2 linked regions of the Homo sapiens genome follow. The protein of the gene in region 1 interacts with the protein of each later gene in a pairwise test. Each region holds a gene or a part of one and is shown in the gene's direction. Other genes may lie near its edges. The genes, in order: GALNT12 and MLH3.

What was found.
Region 2: the proteins of GALNT12 (region 1) and MLH3 interact in a two-hybrid assay, tested with the Homo sapiens proteins (one large-scale study listed by BioGRID and IntAct).

Annotation. Positions count from the first base shown.
Region 1 is NC_000009.12:98,845,617-98,848,398, forward strand, and holds part of GALNT12 (polypeptide N-acetylgalactosaminyltransferase 12), read left to right. Parts: intron 1-360; coding exon 361-507; intron 508-2,782. UniProt on the Homo sapiens protein: Catalyzes the initial reaction in O-linked oligosaccharide biosynthesis, the transfer of an N-acetyl-D-galactosamine residue to a serine or threonine residue on the protein receptor.
Region 2 is NC_000014.9:75,027,177-75,031,002, reverse strand, and holds part of MLH3 (DNA mismatch repair protein Mlh3), read left to right. Parts: intron 1-287; coding exon of another isoform or gene 288-300; coding exon 301-460; exon of another isoform or gene 461-461; intron 462-3,826. UniProt on the Homo sapiens protein: Probably involved in the repair of mismatches in DNA.

The DNA of each region.
Region 1 (2,782 bases):
GTCACAGAGAGCCCCCAAGAGCTAGTGCTGCGATGGGTCCATTTCCCTTCCTCCCATCCCACACCAACACAGCATTCAGCACTGCAGGCAGGAGGTGACATGCACCAGCCCTGTCTCCCTGTCTAGCAAGCTGGGCAGGCATGGGAAGGGCCATTTCCTCCACGCTCATGAAGCACTGCAGTAGCGGTTCACTGAGGGCTGTGGGATGCGGAGGAACCCATCACACAGGCTCGTGTTGGTGGTGACGCAGGTGCATGACCCCACCCATGCTCTCGTGATCCCAGGTTCTTGTCCAGCGATCTTTCCTCTTCCCACATCAGTGGAAAATGTTGTGTTACATGTTGGCTGCCCCATTTTTAGTTTTTCGAGTACACGTCCCAGAAAGAAATACGCTATAACACCCACCAGCCTGAGGGCTGCATTGCTGTGGAAGCAGGAATGGATACCCTTATCATGCATCTCTGCGAAGAAACTGCCCCAGAGAATCAGAAGTTCATCTTGCAGGAGGTAGGTGAACTCTCTCCTTCCTTCCTGCTGACAGTCCCTGGGCTATAAGGGAGAGTGTGAGAGTCAGACGTTCTCTCTGGCATAGTCCTGGTGAGGATCAGGGATGTGGCCATGCATGGACAGGAGCTCTGGAAGACCTGGAACCTCAGTCCCAGTGAGCCTGGGGGGCGGTGATGGCAGGAGATTGGAGTCCCCTGGCACACGGTGTCATTAGCACTGCCTTCCTTCCTCATTGTCCAGTCCCTTTTAGTCTTTTCCATTTCCCTTGCACCCCCATGAGCTGCAGGCACCGACATGGAAACAGCTCTTACAAATGCATTCAGAGATGAAAGGGCTTTAAATGAGTAAGCCAAATAGCCCAAGTGTAAGGATGTTAGCCAAAGTGTTAGATCCAGATATAAGCCACCCCACCTCTCTAAGCCTTGTTTTTCCCAGCTTTAAAATAGGTACAATAGGCCAGGCACAGTGGCTGACGCCTGTAATCCCAGCACTTTGGGAGGCCAAGGCAGGTGGATCATCCGAAGCCAGGAGTTCGAGACCAGCCTGGCCAATATGGCAAAACCCCATCTCTACTTAAAAAAAAAAATAGCCAGGTGTGGTGGCATGCCCCTGTAGTCCCATCTACTTGGGAGGCTGAAGCAGGAGAATCACTTGAACCGGAAGGCGGAGGTTGCAGTCAGCCGAAATCATGCCACTGCACTGTAGCCTGGGAGACAGAGCGAGACTCCGTCTCAAAAAAAAAAAAAAAAAAAGGTGCAATAATAGCAGACTTACTTTACTGAGGATTAGATGCATAGCCAGAAATATTCTTTGGAAACTATAAAGCTCGATAGAGATTAGTTGTTGCTTGTGGTATTATAACCAAGAAAACACCTCTGATAGAGTAGTCTCCCTGGATAGTCACAGTTGATTTGAAACTGAGGGTTACCTCAGACCTGAGGGTGCTGGCCCCACCACACTTGCAGTCAGCTTGCATCAGGACTTGTAAATCGATCATATCCTTTGACTCACTAAAAAGCATGTGAGGGAATAAATCCAAAGAAAATCATTTGAAAGAAAAAAATTCATTGTTTTTTATCTCCCTGGGCAGCTTTCACTCCCAATATACTGCTTATAAATGGGTTTATTCTAAAGATGATTAAAAGCTGGAATATGTTTTCCTGCAGAAAAATGTTGTCACTAGCAATGACATTTGCAGGCTGCCCAGAAAAGCCACACACCATGGTGTTACCTATTGAATACAGGAAAATAAGAAGGAAAAATACTTCTGCACACCCCAGACGTCTCTGATCTTCTTGAATGTCCTCCTCTTCCCATCTTTCTCCCAACCAGAAGCCATTGTAAGCCCTCAAGGAATGGTAGTGGACACTAGAAACAATAAAATCAGTTTGACATATCAAAAATTTTATCTTAAATTTCAGTGACCATTTAAGGAAAAGGAAGTTTGTTCAGGAGGCTGGGAAGAAGGATACTGAATTGGATTTTTTACCTTTCTTCAGGACGCTTAATACTTTGATTCATATGTGAAAAGGATACAGCTTGATTTATTATATTTCATCAGTCATGCCCTAAATATATATATATAAAACAAATATATATTGAACAGAAACATATGTGAATTCTGAAGGAAATGTCCCCACTTATATTCACTAGACCATAATAGAAAGCTTAGTTCTTAGGGCTGGATCTTTTTTTTTTTTTTTTTTTTTTGAGACGGAGCCTTGCTCCACCAAGGCTGGAGTGCAGGGGTGCAATCTCAGCTCACTGCAACCTCTGCCTCCTGGGTTCAAGCGATTCTCCTGTCTCAGTCTCCTGAGTAGCTGGGACTACAGGCGCCCGCCACCACGCCCAGCTAATTTTTTGTATTTTTAGTAGAGATGGAGTTTTGCCATGTTGGCCAGGCTGGTCTTGAGCTCTTTGGCCTCAAGTGATCCACCTGCCTCAGCCTCTCAAAGTGCTGCGATTACAGGCGTGAGCTACTGTGCCCAGCCTTGTATTTTCTTATGTAGGCCTAAAAACCTCTGAAATGTCATTTCTTGGATTCTACAAAACATGAGTTTGGATTTTTTTGAATGAAAAAAGTTCCATTTAGTGAACAGCACATCACAAAGGTTTTTCACTGATGTTGTTATTCACTCTGCCTGTTTGCTGCTCAGCCATGATTAAGTTCGTTGCATACAGCTTATAACAGAGAGGCAGAGGGAAAAGATAAACACCAGGCCTGAGAGAGAGACTTGCTGAGATAATTGAGCAAGGGCTGGCAGAAAGGAGAGAA
Region 2 (3,826 bases), on another chromosome or scaffold:
TAAGTGCCAGCAGCCAGAAGTTAGCAGTTCCTCAATGAAGAAAACACACTTAGAAACAAGACTTAGACACAGATTGATTCCCAATGGAAAAGAGAAAAACAATAAAGGTTACTGTAATTCAAAAAGGAAATTTGATAATAAAAAATCCCAAACACCCACACATAAGTGTGAGAAAAACAATACGGTTGTTAAGCCCTGTGGCAGCTTTTGAAAAACTATTAAGTAGTATTTGGAACCAGTAGTGAAGTGCAAATGAAGTAGCACTCTTTTTTTTTTTAACATTTGAGGTTATCTCTTTAGGTGTTACCACAAAAATCTGGAAGATCTGGGCCTTGAATTTGTATTTCCAGACACTAGTGATTCTCTGGTCCTTGTGGGAAAAGTACCACTATGTTTTGTGGAAAGAGAAGCCAATGAACTTCGGAGAGGAAGATCTACTGTGACCAAGAGTATTGTGGAGGTAAGACACAGCTGCAGATGTTAAGGAAATTGCTGAGTGATGGTAACCTCATATTTTGTCTGTAGATTCTCTGAATTCATCTTTTCTTCAACAAGTATTCATGGTATTTACCTGCGGTGTGCCAGGAGCTAGAAATTCAGAGATGAGTTAGCTCAAAATAAGGAAGAAGGGCATTTAAAGAATTATAGTCAGTGAACTTTGGCTAGTAGAGGTATGTGTTTTGCTTTCTTCCCAGTGATAAAGGTAATGAAAACTAAGAGTCTAGAATGCACCAAGATAGTTTTTCAGAAGTGTTATGGAAACACAGAATGACTTGTGTGCCTGGGGAGGTGAAGTCAATGAAAATGTCACAGAAAAGCTGTTTTCTTAAGAAAAGTTTTTACTTTTGAGAGACCAGGTCTCACTCTGTTGCCCAAGCTGGAGTGCAGTGGTGCAATCATAGCTCACTGTAGCCTTGATCTCCTGGGCACAAGCAATCTTCCTGCCTCAGCCTCCCAAGTAACTCGGACTACAGACACGCACCACCATGCCTGGCTAATTTTTTCCTTTTTTTTTTTTGTAGAGATGGGGGCCTCACTATGTTGCCCAGGCTGGTCCTGAACTTCTGGCCTCAAGCAATCCCCTTGCATTGGCTTCCCAAACCCCCGGCACTACAGGCATGAGCCACTGCACACAGCCAGAAAAGTCTTACAGAATAGTGGGAAACTAGGCTGGGCAAGGTGGCTCACACCTGTAATGCCAGCACTTTGGGAGGCCGTGGTGGGTGGTTCACCTGAGGTCGGGAGTTCGAGACCAGCCTGACAAGCATGGAAAAACCCCATCTCTACTAAAAATAGAAAATTAGCCGGGCGTGGTGGTGCATGCCTATAATCCCAGCTACTCAGGAGGCTGAGGCAGGAGAATGGCTTGAACCTGGGAGGCGGAGGTTGCATTGAGCCAAGATTGCACCATTGTACTCCAGCCTGGGCAACAAGAGTGAAACTCTGTCTCAAAAAAAAAAAGAAAAAAAGAATAGTGGGAAAGTGCTGAGTACAGAAGAGGGGAGAAGGGCATTCTAGACAGAGGAATACATATCAGAGACTTGAGATACATCCTATGTTTAGGGAACTATCAATAGATATGGCTCAAATTAAGATCTACAGTTGATCCTTGGATAACTTGGGTCTGAACTGCGCAGGTACACTTAAATGCAGATTTTCTTTCACCTCTGCCATTCCTGAGACAGCAAGACCAACCTTTCCTCTTCTTCCTCCTCCTTAGCCTATTCAATGTGAAAATGATGAGGGTGAAGACCTTTATGATGATTCATTTCCACTTAATGAATAATAAATATATTTTCTGTTTCTTATGATTTTCTTAACATTTTCTTTTTCTTTCTTTCTTTCTTTCTTTCTTTTTTTTTTTTTTTTGCGATGCCCAGGCTGGAGTGCAATGGCACAATCTCAGCTCACTGCAACCTCCACCTCCCGGGTTAAAGCGATTCTCCTACCTCAGCCTCCCAAGTAGCTGGGATTACAGGCGCACACCACCATGCCCCGGCTAATTTTTGTATTTTTAGTAGAGATGGGGTCTCACCATGTTGGCCAAGCTGGTATTGAACTCCTGACCTCAAATGATCCACCTGCCTTGGCCTCCCAAAGTGCTGGGATTACAGGCATGAGCCACTACGCCTGGCCAACATTTTCTTTTCTCTAGCTTACTTAATTGTAAGAATACAGTGTGTAATATATACAACACACAAAATATGTGTTAATCAACTGTTTATATTATTGGTAATGCTTCTGATCAACGTTAGGCTATTGGTAGTTAAGATTTGGGGAAATCAGGCCAGGTGCAGTGGCTCACGCCTGTAATCCCAGCATTTTGGGAGGCCAAGGCGGGCGGATCATTTGAGGTCTGGAGTTCAAGACCAGCCTGGCCAACATGATGAGACCCCGTCTCTACTAAAAATTAAAAAATTAGCCAGGCATGATGGTATGTGCCTGTAATCCCAGCTACTTGGGAGGCTGAGGCATGAGAATTGCTTGAACCCGGAAGGTGGAGGTTGCAGTGATCCAAGATCACTGCACTGCACTCCAGCCTGAGTGACACAGTAAGACTCCGTCTCAAAAAAAAAAAAAAAAAAATTGGGGGGAAATCAGAAGTTATACTTGGATCTTTGACTGGATGGGAGTTGGCTAGATGGGTTGTCAAGGTCAAATCATAAAATAATTTAGCATATTCTACTAAGTAGTTTGCATTTTATCCTATAGGCAGCCAGTGAAAACTTTTAAGCAGGAGAGTAAGGTCCATTTTAGATTGCATTCCAAATATGATTACTTTACATATATGTTTTGGTAAAGGTTTGGAAAGCTACTGCTGGGCTGTGGCATTGGAGGTATTAGAGAGAACTATTACTTTTTATTTTGATTACTTATATGTTTCTTTTTTTATAGCAAATATCATTTATTTTGTCTTTATTGTCTTTTTCCTCTCCTTTCCTGTTTTCTATTATAGTTTTCTGTATTTCTCTTTTTTTTTTTGCTCTACTCGTTTAGAAGTTATATATTCCATTTATATCCTTTTAGAGATTAGCCTTAACTTTTAGCATGCATACTTATCAAAGTTTAAAAGTAATTCACTTCTCTATCCTCTTCCTAACTGTACCAAAATCTTACAAACTGTTCATCTCCCATCACCCTCCTCCCATCTTCCATGTTGCTGTCTAGTACTTTAATTCCACCTTGTTTTTAATTCCCTGGTGGTCATTTATTTTATAGTCAATCTTTATTTAGATTAAAAAAAGTGTTCACCAGAGTCTTTGTTCACCATTGCCTCTTGCATCCTACTTATTCTGTGTTCTTTTGGGTTTTTTTTTTTTTTTTTTTTTTTTTTTTTTACTGAAGTAAATCTCTTACAAGATCTTTTATCCACAAACAGATCTTGAGACAAAAAATACAAAAATATAAAAATAAATAGAAGTTATTTTAGTAAGAGTCCGTGGGCCAGGCATGGTGGCTCATGCCTGTAATCCCAGCACTTTGGGAGGCCAAGGCGGGCAGATCACCTGAGGTCAGGAGTTTTGAGACCAGCCTGGCCAACGTGGTGAAACCCTGTCTCTACCAAAAATACAAAAATTAGCTGGGCATGGTGGCAGGTACTTGTAATTCCAGCTACTCGGGAGGCTGAGGCAGGAGAATCACTTGAACCCGGGAGGCGGAAGTTGCAATGAGCTGAGATCACGCCATTGCACCCCAGCCTGGGTGACAAGAGTGAAACTCTGTCTCAAAAAAAAAAAAGTCCGTGAATGATAAGCTGTCTTTTAAAGTATCTTTATTTTGTCTTCATACTTGCATGATTATCTAGCTAAAAACAGAATTTCACATT